Regions from separate parts of the Homo sapiens genome. Here region 2 is linked to region 1. Evidence: fine-mapped expression QTL. A gene starts in region 1. The other region holds a variant in brackets. All regions are shown on one strand. Distances are between the middles of the regions.

What was found. PIP is the estimated chance that this variant, and not a neighbour inherited with it, causes the effect.
Region 2: its variant is fine-mapped to the expression of EPAS1 in whole blood (INTERVAL, PIP above 0.99).

What each region holds. Positions count from the first base shown.
Region 1 is chr2:46,292,876-46,301,799 of GRCh38, reverse strand. EPAS1 (endothelial PAS domain protein 1) reads right to left here and starts at 4,393. Exons shown (of 16, transcript NM_001430.5): 1 at 3,863-4,393. The coding sequence starts at 3,888. RefSeq lists silencers at 3,800-4,129, 4,360-4,939.
Region 2 is chr2:46,390,115-46,399,038 of GRCh38, reverse strand. LINC01820 (long intergenic non-protein coding RNA 1820) reads left to right here and starts at 4,872. Exons shown (of 3, transcript NR_146999.1): 1 at 4,872-5,021; 2 at 5,694-5,926; 3 at 6,556-6,746. RefSeq lists enhancers at 4,875-5,375, 5,376-5,876. The variant C/G (reference allele first, on the strand shown) is at 4,097.

The sequences.
Region 1 (8,924 bases):
CTACTGCAGCCTAAAGGTGTTGATAATTATCCAGAAAAGCAAATCTCCTTTCTATAAGGTTCAGCGGTTTGAGAGTTGTGATGGGGAAGGCACTCCTTCGGAAATCATCCTCACTATCTAGAGATATTTCAGGGCTGGGGTACTCTCCTGTGAACAATAGGAAAATACATACTTAATTGAAAGTAATAAACCAGGGTTCTGACTTTTTTTTTTTTTTTTTTCTTTGAGACGGAATTTCACTCTTGCCCAGGCTGGAGTGCAGCAGCGCTATCTCCGCTCACTGCAGCCTCTACCTCCCGGGTTCAAGCAATTCTCCTGCCTCAGCCTCCAGAATAGCTGGGATTACAGGCACCCACCACCACGCCCGGCTAATTTTTTTGTGTTTTTAATAGAGACGGGGTTTCACCATGTTGACCAGGCTGGTCTTGAACTCCTGACCTCAGGTGATCCGCAGCCTCAGCCTCCCAAAGTGCTGGGATTACAGGCATGAGCCACCGCGACCAGCCCTGACTCTTATCAGCACTAATTTTCCTTGTGACCGGAGAAGTCTTTTAACCTCTCTCGGCATCAGTTTCCTTATCCAGAAAGAGAAAAGTCTGACTAGATGATTTCCATGGTCTCTTATAAAATAATTCTAGGCTCCCTATAAGCACCACTGAAAAAAACTTGAAATGATGGCATTCTTTTGAACTTCATGAAAACTGTATGAATTAAAACTTAAATACTCAAGCCAACAATGTGTTACATCAATTCTGTATCATCCTGCGCTGCTGGTAATACAATGGAAACATATCAAGTGTGGAGGGAATATTTATTTAAAATATATGTTTAAATTGAGAGAAACTGTCCAGCAATATTTTTTCCCTTCAGAGTTGGAATAATGATGGAGTTTGATTTGATTTTAGAAGAGGAACAACTAAGTCCAGCTGTCAGAAGGAGGGGGAGATTGGAGATCCAGGTGTCTCCAATTCCCCTTCCACGCTAGCCCTGTACTGAGCACTACTGTATAAGCACTCTGGGAAGGTGTCTGGACCTAGGTCTGGCTTTGGGACTGGACTTTGATCCCTGATTATCCAAGGATCTCATTTACATTTGCCTGAACCACTCCTCAAACCCCGTGAATCCCAGAATTTCCACATTTTTTTCCCAGTGAAAGGACTCAGGCATTCCTGATAGATGCGTGCACAAAAAGGTGAGTGAAAGTGCAGTACCCCCACCCACCAGGCTTCAGTTTCTGACATCTGTGATGTCACCGCAAATGCCCACTACCACCAAAACTGGTACTATCAAGGACACCCAGCCAACTAACATTTAGAAAGCAAACTCTTTATTATTAAACATTAACATATTTATCGACGTGTGAACATTCTGGGACAAAATCATCTGCCCACTTCTTGACGGGCCATTGTTAGAACGAATATTCCAAATGTTCTGCCCATATTGCATTTGGGGGAAGAAACTGCTCTGCTAAACCAAAGAAACACAAAATGTAAGAACTAGTGGGCAGAATCATCAGCAGAGAGCCCCCTCACTGTCACATCGCCCTTGTGAGGCACTCAGAAAAGCTACAGCAGTCACTTACATGACAACACCAACTTTCAATGTATTGGTTCACATATTTTAATTACATCTTGGTCCCTAAAGAAGCCTGCAGCCAGCAAACAGACCCAGGCACGAAAAGTAAATGAGTCTCAAACTGATTAGCCCAATAGGAATTGGACAACCCCTTAAGGGGCTCTAGATGGTGAAGGACACGCTGTTTGCCCTGCCATTCTGCAGCACAAAAATCCAGGCAGGTCGAAGAGGGCGGACACCCTCGCGTGGCCACCAGCCCGGAGCCGCAGCTCACACAGCGGCCTCCAAGGCGTTTCGCAGGCAGTCCCCACAGTGGTTCTTAAAGCGGCCGCTCTCGCCAATAATTGGGAGTCTAATTACGCAACGTTCTTCCCGCTCCCATTCCCGCTTCTTCTCTCTTTCCAACAGTCCGCTAACGAACCAGGTACTGTAGCTGGGTGTGTCGAAATCATTTTTCCCCTGCTCCCAAGTTTCTCGGTATATACGGTACAAAACTGCACAAAACCCGGCGCTAAGGAGCGCAGGAGGAGCTGACACTTCACACATTTGTCAAGATTACTGTCAGGCCCCACCTCGGCGATTGCCACATTCCCGATAGGCATCGCAGTTGTAAAATACACAAGTTCCCTCCCCGGCTCCGGACCCGAAAGCGTCTGCAGGCGCTGTCTATAACTTTGCTTTTCGATGGTTCAGTCATTATTAGCATTATGATTGGTTTTTACAAAACGCACTGGAATCTTAAGAGTCTTTTCCTTGCTCTGCTGCCTTCAAAAGACATGGAACCCCAGGACTGCTCCGAGGGCCCTGGGAATGTGCCGGCTGCAGTCTCAGGGCTCCCTCACTTGTCTTGGGTCTGAGGGCGCGACGGTGACGAGAAAGGGGGGACTACGGCCAGGAAAGGGGAGCAGGGCCCAATCCCCTCCCCTAGCGATCCCGCAGTGAAGGGCCCGGGCGCCGAGCCAGGACAGGCGCGATTCGCTCCCGTTTATCAAATCCTTATCGGTGCCCCGAGGTGGGAACCGCTGCTTTCGACCGGAGGATACACGGTTTCTGGCTCCAGTCCCGTAGTGGAAGTTGGAACAAGAGCAAATCAACCTCGGCAGTGAGCCCTCCCGGCCAGTCACCTCCCTCCCTTAGCGAGTCGGTCCTCCTCATCCTCGCACCTCTATACCGCCGCTCCGCCGCTGGTTTCCCGCGGCTCAGGCGGTTCAGCCGGCCGCGCGTTGGATTCCAGCTTCCCGCAGCATAGCCTCGCCAAGCCGCGGCCAAGCGCGGGGCTGGAAGCTCCAGGCCACTGGGGCCGCACGGGTGGAGACAGGAGGAGAAAGGGGACAGGCGGCGAGCCGCACACATTTGCAGAAGTTGAGGCCCTGCCTGCTTCTGCGCGGCCGCGCAGAGGGCTCGAACCCTCGCTCGGGTAGCGCCGGGCCCGGCTGGACTGGGAGCGGCCGGGAGAGGGCGAGAGGGCAGCAAGAAATGGCCAGAGTTGCCTCTCACCCAGTGCCGAGAGGCTCGCGAGGGCAGGCGGGCAGATCGTGGCTGCCCTTCTCTGTCCTCTTCGGAGACAGACACCCGGACCTGCCAGGGACATCCAGTGTTGCCGTCCGCTTCCTACACACCGAACCATCTGCCCCCGCAGGGCAATCCAGGTCACTCACTACCTACTCTCCCCAGAGTCAAGGTGCGGCACGAGGAAGTGGGTTCTCCAACCTTCGGTGGGGTCTGGAGCCCGGCAGCGGGGCGCTCTGAAGGGTCCTGGCTCCTCGGTAGGATCGTGTCCCTGAGCCGCTCTCCGCCTCCCGCCCCCCTTTGCCCACTTGGGCCGCGGCGCGGGCACAGGAGCGCATTTGGAAGGACTCCGCGAATCCAGAGAAAAATAGAGACGTGGATGCTGCCCCAAAATGAGAGACCAGAGAAAGTCGAGGACATGCACCCACAAACATTTCCAAGCGCCGGTGGCCACGGTAATCTGCTGCGGGGCGGCTGGGAGATTTTCAAAGGCACCGCGGAAGCACCTCCGACCTCCAGGCCATCTCCCTCGGCCTCCTGGCCTCGCCGTGCGCGCAAATCCCCGACTCCTCCGAGCCGCAGAAGTCTCCACTGCAAAGCTGCTGATCCGCGCCCCCAAACCGGGCACATGCTCTCCCCCTCACAGCCCTCCAAACCGAGCCTCGAGCTCCGAAGACCTCTCAGCACTCTTCTCCCAACCACTCTCGGTCGCGCCTGCCCCGCGCAGCCCGGCCCTGGCCTCGGACCGGCCCCCTGATCGGCCCGGACGCCCGCTTACCTTTTCTTCTCCTTGTCAGCTGTCATTGTCGCTGTGGCCCTTTGAGACGTTCAGACGCCGAGCACCTGGGCTCCCTGGCGGGTGGGGGGCTGTGGCCCTCGTCCGCTCCCCGCGGCCCGGGCGGGTGGTGAAGGTCCGAGGTGCGCGCAGGTCCCGAGCGCCCCGCGCAGTCAGGTGGAAGGTGGCGCGCGGCGGGCTAGGTGCGGGGGCGGGGGTGGAGAAAGGTGACTGGGAGGAACCTGCGCGCGGAGGCGGGGTCCGGGGAAGGAGTGGGTGGAGGCTGTCAGACCCGAAAAGAGGACGGAGAGAAGGGAACCCAAGTTCCTTTTTCCCTGGAAAAGGAGTCACTTTTCTGAGTTTTCAAAGAAAAAAAAAAGTGGCTCGAATGCTGGGAGTCGGAAGGAGTCGGAGGCCGGGCTGAGCTGACCATACAGTCTCAGGACACTGCCGAGGATTGTACGGCCGCCTCAGGAGCGCTGGGGCGGAAGCGCAGCGGGCACCGGACCCGTGTGGCGGTCCGCTCGCGAGTGTAAAGCTCCCGCGGCCGGCAGCCCACTTTAAAAACTCCGTCGGCCGGCTTGGGGCGGGCACGGGGCGGGCGCGGAGGGCGGGGGGCGGGCACCGGCGCGGGTGTGTGGGCGGGCACGCGCCGGCAGGCCCCGCCCGCGCCGAGCTCCGGGCGGCTCACTGCGTCCCGGCCAATGGGGACGCGCGGCCGCAGCCTCTGCCCTGACCCTGGCCCGCCTCCTGCCCCCGCGCTGCGCCCCGCCTCCTGCCTCCGCACTTCGAGGACTTGTTTATGAGGTCGTCTGGGCGGCGGGTAGCGGGGTGGGACTCCGCGTCGGGGAGAGGCAGCCTGCGCAGGGCCGAGGGGCGGCCGGGAGCCGGGCTCCGGGATTGCTGCGGGGGACGGCAGTTGCGCCACAGCGTCGGTGTCCTCGTACCGGCGCCGTGCCCTTGGAACGAGGGCAGGACCGCGGGCAGCGCCGGGCCAGCGCGGAGCCCCTCCACGCTGCTGCGCTCCTGCGTCCCTGGCCCTCGGGCCAGGTGGGGATAATTTCTCGGCCCCCAGCGGCTGCGTTTCGGGCGTGGGCGATGCGCCCTTTTCGGTGGGACGCAGCTGACTTGACCGTCTGGGAGAAGCAGTGCAAGGAAATTGATCTAGGGCTGCGCCTACTCTTCCTTCCCTCTCCCAGCAGGGTGGTTGCTTACCGGCTTGTGCCAGGCGGTTTGGTTTTGGCGGGGATGCGGCAGAGGAGGCCCTTTGAGCCGCCCGAGGCCGGGGCGAGTTCAGAATTGGAGAAGTCAGTCTGGTTCCCCAGTGTGATCTTGGAGTGACAAGAGTTGGCCATGTGCCCTCAAGTCACTGCATCTCAGGCCTGCCCTCTCTGCCGCCAGGGTCGATGGAAGTCCTGGGAAACCCAAAGGCTACAGGTGTTGGAAATTTGTAGATTTAAGGGCTCACACAGGCAACGGTTAGCGCTCAGGGATTTTCCAGCGGCGCTTTTGACGCTGCCTTCCATCTCCGGGCCCAGTGCTCCCCTGCCCCGCGCTGAGCTGTCTCCCACTCGCTACCGGCGATGGGGAAGGGACATCTGGGGAGAGGACAGGGGACGCCCTTAGTTTTTGAAGGCTGTGGAAGGACCCATGAGTTTCACAGGTGTAACTTGAAGTTGGAAAGCGAGGGCCAAAGAACTGGTCTATATCTCTCCCTTTAGCCTCTTGCCACATTTTATACTAGAACGATCTACAGAAGCGATTTGAAGAGAAGGGTAGGTTTCAGCGCCATAATAAAAATGAACACGTGTTTTCCCCGTGTACACAGAAAGGGTTGGGGGAGATACTTTTCAGGAGCCTGGAGAAGGCGAAGTGGGGAGAGGGCAAAAACTGACGAAGAATTGGGAAATACTTTTTTTTTTTTTTTGAGACTGAGTCCCACTCTGTCGCCCAGGCTGGAGTGCTGTGGCCCCATCTCGACTCACTGCAACCTCCGCTTCCCGCGATTCTTGTGGCTCAGCCTCCGGAGTAACTGGAATTAAAGGCGCCCACCACCACCCTCAGCTAATTTTTGTATTTTTAGTAGAGACGGGAGTTTTACCATGTTGGCCAGGCTGGTCTCAAACTCCTGACCTCAAGTGATCTGCCCAACTTGGCCTCTCAAAGTATTGGGATTACAGGCGTGAGTCACTGTGCCCGGCCGGGAAGTAGACGTATTTTGTCATTTTCTCAGATCTCGGGGCACGGAGCACCTATACAGGTTGATAGTCAACGAATTCAAAGATTGCAAATCTCTCTCTAGCGAACTATTTCATGGGGCTGGTGGGTTTCAGGAACGGGGTGATTTGGTACTGGGCTTCTCCAGCCAGCCATTTCTAGTGGACACATTTATGTATTTTAATGAGTTCAAATTGGTAGATAGTTCTCCCTTAACCATAGGCTTATTTCCCTCACTTGGGACTAGAGTGCGGGAAAAGGGCACCTTGGTGGCTTCCAGGTGCCTACAGTAGTTCACCACAACAGCCTCTGAGTCCTGGACTGTGCTTGACAGATCGAGGCAACACCTCCAACCCATAGAGAACATAGCCTTTTAGATCTTGTTTTTAAAGAGGAAAGGCAAGGAGGGGTCACTCAAGACCACATCAACCTAAGAAGACATGGACACATGGGAGGAACAGCACAGACTGGGGCGTGTCAGAGGGTGAGGGGTGGGAGGAGGGAGAGCATCAGGAACAATAGCTAACGGATGCTGGGCTTAATACCTAGGTGATGGGATGATCTGTGCAGTGGACCACCATGGTACACATTTACCTATGTAACAAACCTGCACATCCTGCACATGTACCCCTGAGCTTAAATGTTAGAAATTCCATCAACCATGTTATATAGCTCCTTCCTCTTGGCCAGACTGCACCCTATAAGTGAAGGATCCCCAGGCTAACACAAACAGCTGGCATTGAGTCTGGGATTTTTTTTTTTTCTTTAGACAATCTCACTCTGTTGCGCAGGTTGGAGCGGAGTGGCACGATCTTGGCGCACTGCAACCTCCACGTCCCGGGTTCAAGCTATTCCCCTGCCTCAGCCTCCCAAGTAGCTAGGACTACAGATGTGCACCACCATGCCCGGCTAATTTTTGTATTTTTAGTAGAGATGGAGTTTTGCCATGTTGGCCAGGCTGGTCTGGAACTCCTGGCCTCATGTGATCCACCCACCTGGGCTTCCCAGAGTGCTGGGATTATACGCATAAGCCACCGCACCTTGCCAAGTCCGGGATTTTGGCAGTGTCTGAGATACACCAAAAACTCATTATAATAACTCTCAAAAGGGTTGCACCCAGCCTTGCTTAGAGCAGAGCCGGGTGGCCTGAGATTTCTTCCAGGACTCAGCTCAATAACCTTTGCAGGAAGGAGCTGAGAGTGTAAACCAGATGCAGGCTGTGGCTAGGGTGCATCCAATTTTACTTTTTAGAGCCTGTGGAGAACTAGAGGAGAAAAACTTTGAAAGGTGATGCTGGGGCAGTGAGTGGGGGATGGGGAGCTGGGTCCCCGGATTCAGAGGGGTGTCTTTAGAGACACTGATGTTGTGGCCACAGAGGGCAGCAGAGGACACCGGTAGGCAAAGCTCCCAAGCTGCTTAAAATAGGAGCAAACTGCCCACCTCCCAGCAAATCTCCCTACCTGCCCCCCAACCCTGTATTGGATGGTTTGGGAACAAAAGCTGTGGCACCAGTGAAACACCTATTTGTTTTGACAAGGGACAAATCTGATTCTCTTGCTTCCTCTTTTCTTTGTAGGGTGTGCCCTCAGGAGGATGGGATAGAGATAAAGTGTGAACTTACAAACCTGGCAGAGAGCAGGCACCTGGGATGCAGTGGGCTGGTGGAAGAAAGATGGCCTCAGTACTCCCATCGAAGTAACAGTATGTTCCAGGATGCAGTTGGAAATTAGGTTGGAATGGATGGGATCTAACAGGAACAGCTCTTGGAAGGATGGGCTATCTCATTAGTACCTTACAACTTCCAATGCATTGTCACATATTGGAGTTGGGACCAGGGTGAGGCAAAAGAGGCCTTTAAGAGTCATGCAAGTACACTGGCCTCTGTCCTGCCACATGCCTTATCTCACGTAATACCCATCTGACCCTTGTCTGGCTATTTAGTTGGTTTCGGGGTGGAGAGAGCAGGGGAGGTAAGGAGCAGAGATGGGAGAGAGGACAAGCTGGCAGAGACTCTTTCTCTATGAAAAGCCTTGCCTGAGTCACTCCTTCCCTCACACTTGCATGTTACTCCATCCAAACGAAACCAGCCCCTTTTGTGACTTCACAAAATCTATACTCACACTCCCTGTCACTGAACTCCAGGTCCAGAAAACTATGCCCCCTGTGTTTGGCTTTAGGCCAATGTCGTGAGATATTCCACACAGACATGTGCTGTATCTTCTTTTAAATGTTGTGACTTTTGACCCCACAAATCTAGAATTTGTCATCTTTCAAAAAGAGTTCTGTGATTTCTTTTTTTTTTTTTTTTTTTTTTTGAGGCAAGAGTCAAACTTTTTTTCCTCCTTGAATTCCTAAGTGCTTGCTGGTAAGAAGGATGCAGTTTTAAAGAACCCCAGCTTCTCCATTCCTCACACCTGTATACTGATGACTTGGAGACTAACATCTTCCATTGCTAGGCTTAGGAATGAAGTTTTGCCTCTGAAGGGAGTTGTGCATTTGTAACTGTCATTCAACCAATGGTGAAAGAGTCACTGGTCCAGGGCCAATGTGCTCTGCTGCCTCCGGGAAAGCATAAGACATCAGTCTGTGGAAGAGGGCACTGGTGGTTTCCTTCCCTCCAAGAGGACATAGTTCAGTTGGGTACATACTGCATTTCCCAGATTTTGAATACACACGTTTTAAGGCTTCCAAAATCAGGTATCTTTTGACATGGTAATTCCTTTTCCTCCCCCAATTTTTAATTTGGTAAATATGTACAATTTATATGCTCTTAACATTTTTAAATTTGAAAATCGAGAGCAAAATCTTATAGCCTAAACAACAGGAGTGGTAAGAATTTGGTGGTGGT
Region 2 (8,924 bases), 97 kb before region 1:
TGGACATTTCACATGAGTAGAATCATGTAATATGTGGCCTTTGTGTCTGGCACCTTTCATTTATCATAATGGTTTTGAGATTCATTCATATTGTTGCATGTATTAGTACTCCCATGACTTTATATGGCTGAATAATATTCCATTGTATGTCTACACCTCATCTTGTTTATTCATTTATCAGCTGATGGATGTTTAGGTTGTTTCTACTTTTGGGCTATTATGAATAGTGCTGCTGTAAATATTTGTATATAAGTTTTTATGTGAACATATGTTTTCAGTTCTCTTGAGTATATATCTAGGAGTGAAATTGCAGGTCATATGGCAATTCTGTTTAACTCTTTGAGGAACTGCCAGACCGTTCTCCAAAGGACTTTGCATGCCATTTTACATTTCTACTAGCAATGTATGAGTGTTTCTATTTCTCCACATCTTTAGCAACACTTTTTATTGCCCATCTTTTAAATTTTAGTCAGCATAGTGATGTGTGAAGGGGTATCTTATTGTGGTTTTAATTTGCATGTCTGTAATGACATTGAGTGTCTTTTTGATACATTTAATTGGCCATCTGTATATCTTCTTTGGAGGAATATTTGGAGGAATCTTAAATAGAGTTATTTTCCTTTCAGTTGTTGAGGTGTAAGTGTCCTTTATCCATTCTGGATATTAGTCCCTTAGCAGATATATGATTTGTAACTATTTTCTCCCTTTTATTGCTTGTCTTTTCATTTTCTTGATCCTCATTTACTTTTTTTTCTGCTTGTTCTATCAGTTACTGAGCGAGATGTGTTAAAATCTCCTGTTATGATTATAGATTTTCTAGTTTTCCTTGTGGTAGTATTAATTCCTGAGGCTTATTAGGTACATACAAATACAGAATTATGAAACCTCCCTATTGTATTGACCCTTTTATTATTATGAAAAGTCACTCTTTATTTTGGTTAATGCTTCTTCCTCAAAGTCTACCTATTTGATATTAGTATGCTACACCAGCTTTTTTGGAGGGAGTTGTGTTTGCATGGTTTCTTTTTGTCTTTTCACTGTCTCCTGTCTGTATCCTTATTTATAAGGCATATTTCCTGTAAGCAGTCTTTATATATCTTTTAACCTGGTCTGGTAATATTTGTCATTTAATGGAACTATTAATATTTAACCCCACTCATATTATTTAATTACTGATATATTTGTTTTTTTTGAGACACGGTTCTCTGTCACCCAGGCTGGAGTGCAGTGGCATGATCATGGCTCACTGCAGCCTCAACCTCTGGGTCTCAAGCTATCCTCCCACTTCAGTCTCCCGAGTAGCTGGGGCTACAGGCATGCACCACCATGCCCAGCTAATTTTTTAATTTTTTGTAGAGATAGGGTTTCCCTTGTTGCCCAGACTGGTCTCAAACTCTTGGGCTCAAGCAGTCCTCTTGCCTCAGACTCCCAAAGTGCTGGGATTAGAGGCACGAACTACAGCGCCTGGTCAATGACTGATATATTTAGATTGAAAGCTAGCATCTTACTTGGTTTGTACTTATCCAACCTCCCTGTGTTTCTTTTTCTCTCCTTTCTTGCCTTTTTCTGGAATAATCACGTTTTTTTTTTTTTTTTTTTTTTTTTGAGATTTCATTTCCCCGCTCTATTAGCTTGTCATTGTTACATTATTTTACAGTTCTAATGATCGCTCTAGTAATTACAACATGCATCCTTGATTTATTAGCATCTAATATAAATAATTACATTGACCACTTTCTTTCTTTTTCTTTTTTTTTTTTTTGGAGATGGAGTCTTGCTCTGTTGCCAGGCTGGAGTGCAGTGGTGCGATCTTGGCTCACTGCAATCTCTGACTCCCTGGTTCAAGGGATTCTCCTGCCTTGGCCTTCTGAGTAGCTGAGATTACAGGCGCGTGACACCACACCTGGCTAATTTTTTGTATTTTAGTAAAGACGGGTTTTCACCATGTTGTCCAGGATGGTCTTGATCTCCTGACCTCATGATCCGCCTGCCTCGGCCTCCCAAAGTGCTGGGATTACAGGCGTGAGCCATCGCACCCGTCCACATTGACCACTTTCTAGACAAGGCAAAGACTGAAAGCCACTTAACTCCATGTACTTCTTCTCACCTTTTGTGCCATTGTTTTCACATACGTTCATTCCACATTTATTTTAAACCCTACAATTATTAACAGTCAATATTCACTTAGATTTACTCATTTATCTACCTTTTCTTAGCTTTGTATTCCCTCCTGTGTTTTCCTTGCTCTCATCTGGCATAGTTTGAAAAAACATTTATTTAAGTATAGTTTTAGATTTACAGAAAAATTGCAAAAATCATACAAAGAATTACCATATGCCTCACACCCAGTTTTTCTCTATGATTAACATCTTAGTATAGTACATTCCCTATAATTAATGAACCAATATTGATACATCATTATTAACTAAAGCCCGTATTTTACTCACATTTCCTTAGTTTTTACCTAATGTTCTTTTCTTTATTATAGGATCCTGTTTAAGAAAGCACATTCCACCATCCTGGCTAACACGGTGGAACCCCGTCTCTACTAAAAATACAAAAAATTCGCTGAGCGTGGTGCTGGGCACCTGTAGTCCCAGCTACTCGGGAGGCCGAGGCAGGAGAATGGTTGAACCCAAGAGGTGGAGCTTGCAGTGAGCCGAGATCGTGCCACTGCACTCCAGCCTGGGCGACAGAGTGAGACTCTCTCTCAAAAAAAAAAAAAAAAAACAGAGCACATTTCATTTAATTGTCTCTTTAGGCTGCTCTTGACTGAGACAGTTGCTCAAATTTACTTGTTTTTTAAGACCAGCTCTTGTTCTATTACCCAGGCTGAAGTGCAATGGCATAAACACAGCTCACTGCAGCCTCAACTTCCTAGGTTCAAGCCATTCTCCCACCTCAGCTTCCTGAGTAGCTGGGATTACAGACATGTGCCATCATGCCTGGCTAATTTTTAAATTATTTTTGTAGAGACAGGGTCTTGCCATGTTGCCCAGGCTAGTCTTGAACTCCTGGGCTCAAGTGATCCTCCCACCTTGGCCCCACAAAGTGCTGGGATTACAGGCATGAGCCACATGCCCAGCACTTGTTTTCGATGACCTTGACAGTTTTGAGGAGTTCTAATGAGGTTTTTTTGTAGAATGTTCCTCAGTTGGGATTTGTCTGATTCTCTTTCTCATGATTAGACTGAGATTCCCTAAAGGTTTTTAGGGGGAAGAATCATAGAGGTAAAATATCATTTTTATTATATCATGTCAAGGGTACATACTATTTTTTTTTTTAATGGAGATGGGGTCTTTCTGTGTTTCCCACGCTGGATTTGAACTCCTGGGCTCAAGTGATCCTCCTGCCCCAGCCTGCCAAGTAGCTGGGACTATAGGTGTGTGCCACCATGCCCAGCAAAGGCACATACCATTAACAAGCCCTTCAAAATCTGGATCTACCTCTGAATACGGGTAAGTATGCTAATAGATCATTCCAGGAAATGACCATATGCCCCTGAGAAAGGATGAGAAAGGAGTTGTGGATCCTGTGTTTCTTTAGGGAATCTCAGTCACCCCATCCCTCTGGAGATGTGAGCATCTTGCTGTGCTGAGTATAGTTGTGTTTAAAGATGTGTTTTCTTTACAAGGTGATCTCTAGATATGAGCCAATTATTTCATCTGGTGCTCATCCAAAGAAACCACAATTGTTCTGACACCGGAGGAAAAGCTGACTGCGCTGGAGAAGTGGGGTGTTGGTTTTCAGCGTGGTCACACCTTCCTTAGGGGTTCTCGAGGGGAATTCTGACTTGTGGGGTTTTTTGCTTTCTTCCTAACTTCAGATGTAATGCCACAGTACCTCTCAAAGAGAAACAGTAGTCCATGAAGGCCATGCAGTCTAAATCTCTATTAAGGAAGAAACACATTTTAAAATTTAAATTCACCATAATTTGCACCATTTTTTCGGCTCACAGTTAAGGGGCAGTGCCAGTTCCCCTCTGGTCATCCTGGGTTGCATATGGGCCGTCTATCTTTCACAACCAAGCTTTATCTACACAGAGATGTGAGCGAAGTTTTGCAATCATAGTTTTTCTTTACCTTTTCCTGTTATC[C/G]TTAGCCCATCATGTTCTAAATAGCTTTCTCTGGTGATCAGAGTAAAGGGATTTCTCTGTTATTCTGAGCAAGTAAACACTGAAACATCAGGGAAAGGGTGAAGTTTGTTTCCGAGTGTATTTGCGTTCAGCTGGACTCTGTTTTCCTGCACCTGTAGGCCTGATTCTATCCTGTGGAGCCACCCAAAAAAGTTCTACACCTTCTGCTTTTCCAGATATTTGCAGGTGGGCTTTTGAGCTCCCCCAAACCTTATTTTCTCCAGTACAAACTTCCTCAGCTTTTCTAGTCAGTGTTTGTAACATAGTTGAGAGTCTCCTCACCATTTTAGTCATCCTTCTTTGAATTCATTCCTGTTTATTAAAACCTGGTGCCGAGAGAGGGATATAATATTATCGGGGTGGCTTCCTAGCCCATAGTATTGTGGGATTACCCATTCCTTTTTTCTCCATATTGTTCTTCTATTAATGCATTTTTAGGGTCACATTATTTCTACGATTACTTTATAGGCTAGTACTCATTTATTAATAAGTTATTTTTCAGAAATTCCCATACTCAATATCAAAGGCACTTCCTTGGCAAAGTGACTGTATTTCTCTCTGTCTCGGTTTCTTCATCTCCAAATGGCAATAATTATGATCCTATGAGCTCACAGGACTATTGTGATGAATGAATGAGATACTCTGGTCAAGCTCAGCCTAATAAATAATAAAGTCACTGTGACTGTCTCTACTTTCTGACTGTGAGTACTGCTACAAGTCCACCCCCACCTCTGCTTGTAGAAATAAAAAGTGCAGATTTATGAGAGGGGATGGGTCTACCTGGAGTGACTTGAGGAATACCCAGAAGACCCCGTCCACCTCCTCCTGCTTAGAATATGCCTTTTGCTAGCCTGCTGTGATGCCTGGAATTTCATCCTTCACCCATGTGAGTCATTATTGGACCCAGGAAGTTAAAGATCAATCAGTCTTATCCCCTGCCCCTCCCCCCCCCCCCCCCGCCACCCCCGGAGAGCTACAGATGCCACCCACAGCTGGCTCCTGGAAACTTGAGCAGAGACTGGGTCCTCTACTCTTTTTCAGAAGTTCTCCCATGAGGGTGTGAGTGGCCAGGGAGATGTCCTGAAAGGGATTCTGGGCTCGGAGTGGCTTAGAGGGCAGTTTCCCACGAATTTTCCAATTTTCTTCAGTCAGAAAGTGAGCGACCCATGACCAGTCCCATGCCCCGAGCACAGCCCAGCAGAGCTCAGAGTTGGTCCACAGCATGTAGGGGGGTGGGAATGATGACCATCGCGGCAGAGCCCACGCTGGCCAGCACAGCTGGTGCTCCACATTTTAAGCAGGAGTGGACACACGTACCCAGGATCTCCCAAACCCGTGCAGGCCAACCCACCCCGGTCTGAGTCAGCTTTCTCATCCAGACTTGAGTCTTAGTTAGAGCACTGCCTTAGCCTTTAGTGAGGCCCCCAAAATGATGTCAATGTTCACGCTCAGCTGCCCTCGCCTCAACCAGGCTAATGAGGATGGGGAAAAAGTTCTTTGTTTTAGGCCAAATGGGTCTTCTCTAACTGCAGCTGTTTTCTTTTTTTGTTCCTACAAGTGCTGGGCCCACCCACATAGTTTAAAGCCAAGATCAGGACAGAGATGGAGGGAGCTGTCCCCTGGCCACCCTGATACCTGCTGTTGGAAATCAACAAACAAACACAAACCCACTTTGCGTTCTGTGAGTGTGCATGTATGTTGGTCCCTAGGTGCTGCAGGACAAGAGGAGGGCCAGAAAGCTCTGCCCATGCCTGGGGAGCATGCTGGATCTCCCTTCCAGCTACAGAAGAGGTCAGCACCCTGCCCCCGCTGGCGGTCTTGCTCGAACCTCTGAGAGACCTCTTGGCAACATGCTGTCCCTCCTAATTGTCTTCCTCGGTCACCACTGCAGACCAAGCCTTCCAGGTCATCAGTCACCACGTGGCCCTTGTCCTGGGAGAGTTCTGCACATCCGCTTCCCTTCACCCCTCCTCACCTCCAGACCCTTCCACTGCATTATCGAGAACTCTGTCTCCTAGAGCCTCCCCTCCTCTGAAGGGGCCTTTACCTTCTTTCACTGAAGCCTGGCTGTCCTCAAGCTCCCTGCTCCTTGCAGCCACTCAGGTTGAGGCTGGTTTCTGTCGCCTACAGGCAGGTGTCAGGCAGGGCCTGGACGTAGAGGGGTTACTCATTTCTCCCTCTCAGTCCTCAGACTCTTTTTTTCTTCCCCCAGTGACTTCAGTCCCCAGCTCCTCTCTCCATCCACCTTTACTTTCACGGACGCTGACACCCACCTGGACCACTCTGACAACATCCTGGCTCCCCAACTTCATCAGACCCTTGCCTTCTTTGATTTCAGCCACCTCTGAGATCTGAAAATTTGCTTTTATTTAAAAAATGTCTTAAGTTTACATATGTAAAATTCTTTTTCTGATGTACAGGTCTATGGTTTCTTAGACACGCGTGGATTCTCACAGCCACCACCACAGACAGTACAAGCAACAGTTCCAATACTCCAGAGAACGCCCTCATCTCTCCTCACCCCTGCCTTCTGGCAAGCAATGAGCTGTTCTCTGTTCCTGTATTTTTGCCTTTTCTAGAATGCCATATAAATGGAATTATATAGAATGTGCCCTTTTGGTACTGGCCTCTTTTGTTCAAAAGAATAATACCTTTGAGATTCATCCATGCTGTTGTTTGAATCAAGCATGTTAACTTTTATTGCTGAGTAGTAGTCCATTGTGTAGATATATTACAGTTTTTTAAAAATCTACCCCTGTCGAAGGACATTTGGGTTGTTTTCAGTTCTTGGTGAGGATGAACATTTGTGTGCAGATTTTGTGTGGACTTAAAATCTTGACTTCTTTAAAATACCTAGAAGTGGTCATTGCTGGGTCCTATGTATGTGAGATCTCAACTGTAAGTTTCCTCTCCTCTGACAACTGTGCCCCATCCACATGGTTCCTTTCTCTAACATATCACACTGACCACTGTGACCTCACTAAGACCTCCAATTCACTGAGCCTGCCATTTTTTTCATTGATCATGAACCTATTCATTTTTTCTTTCCTTCTCACACAACTTAGTGATCCATCGTAATAGTCATCCTACTGGAAACTTTCCTCACTCCCTTAAACATACCGTCCTGGCTGAACCACAACCTGGTAAACTCAACTACCCACCCATTCAGTCTCCATTAGAGTAGAACAGTGTGGCTAGAAGAAAACACAATTGTGCCATGGGCCAGTTCATGACCATAAATCTCACCTGAGCTTCTGATACTGATCATCGATCAGTCTGACCTTCTAGTGACTATTTCATACTTGTATCTCTTCAAACCTCTGACAGCCTCATATATCACTGGGGAAATAGCGATCAGACTAGAGATTGCTTATTATCCTCCCACCACCAATTCCACCTGACGGACTAAGGCTTTACTCTCTTCTCTGCCTTCCCCCTTTTAAAACGATGAACTGTCCATGCTTCTGTCTGAAGCCAGCCCCTCGATGGTGCAGTGGATTCCATCCGTGCCCATCCCACCTTTTCAATCATTTTACTTCTGCAATTATCCCCCCCTTTCCTGTCTTCATCAACTTTCTGCCATCACCGTATATACGTTTCCTAATGTAGCTCATCTTCAAAAATGATGTCCCTCCTGGCTCCCCAAAACCAGTAACTTTACAGTGGAGAGACCTGACAAAACACCTCAGCCAGGTGATCAAGGCAACGAGTCATGACGGCGGAATGTACCCTTGCTGTGATGTGAGGAGGTGATAATGGCACTGTACCTCTTTGGTCTTCCTTTCCAAAACCCACAACCTCTGTCCAACCAGAAAAACACCAGACAAATCCAAATGGAAGGATGTTCTACAAAATACTTAACTAGCACTCCTCAGAATTGTCAAGGCCGTCAAAAGTGGGGAAAACCTAAGAGAAGCCTAAGGAGACGTGACAAGTAAATGTAATGTGGTATCCTGAATAGGACCTTAGAACAGAAAAAGAAAGATATTAAGTAACACTAAAAACTGGAATAAAGTACAGGCTTTAGATAATAAGGTACCAATACTGGTTCATTAATTGTGACTTATGTACCATAGTAATGTTAACAATAGAGGAGGCCAGGCACGGTGGCTCACGTCTATATTCCTACCGCTTTGGGAGGCCGAGGCAGGAGGATCACTTGAGCCCACGAGTTTGAGACCAGCCTGGGCAACATAGGGAAACCCCGTCTCTATTCTAAAAATAAAATAAAATAATAGAGGAAACTGAGTGCAGGGAACTCTTATAATGGTCTCACAGCCTTTCTGTAAACCTAAAACTATTCTAAGATAAAAGTCGATTAAATATGAAACCACACACACACACACATACACACACACACACATATACACTCCCACACACTCCCCTGACCCATGTCATCCTCTTGCTCCACTCCATTTCCCTGCTTTCCTGCACAGGGAACCTTCCCAAACGAGTTGTATATTGCTACGGTCTCTGTTTCCCCACTCCAGCCAGCTCATTCCTCAGTCTACTCCAATCTGCTGTCCTTAGCTCCCCACCAAACCTGCTCTTGTTAAGGTTGATGGTGAGCTCCATGTTGGCAAATCCGAGTCAATTTTTTTCCCCTTCCCTTACCTTTCAGTCTAGTGTGTGTGTAATGCAGTTCACTATGCCCTACTTCCCGCAGCACCCTTATCACTTGGCTTTTGAGATACTATACCCCTGGATTTCTTTCTGCTCCTTGGGTGCTCCTGCTCAGTCTGGCTTCTACCAGTGGCCTAGGTTCTGTCTCCCGACCTCTGTTCTTTGC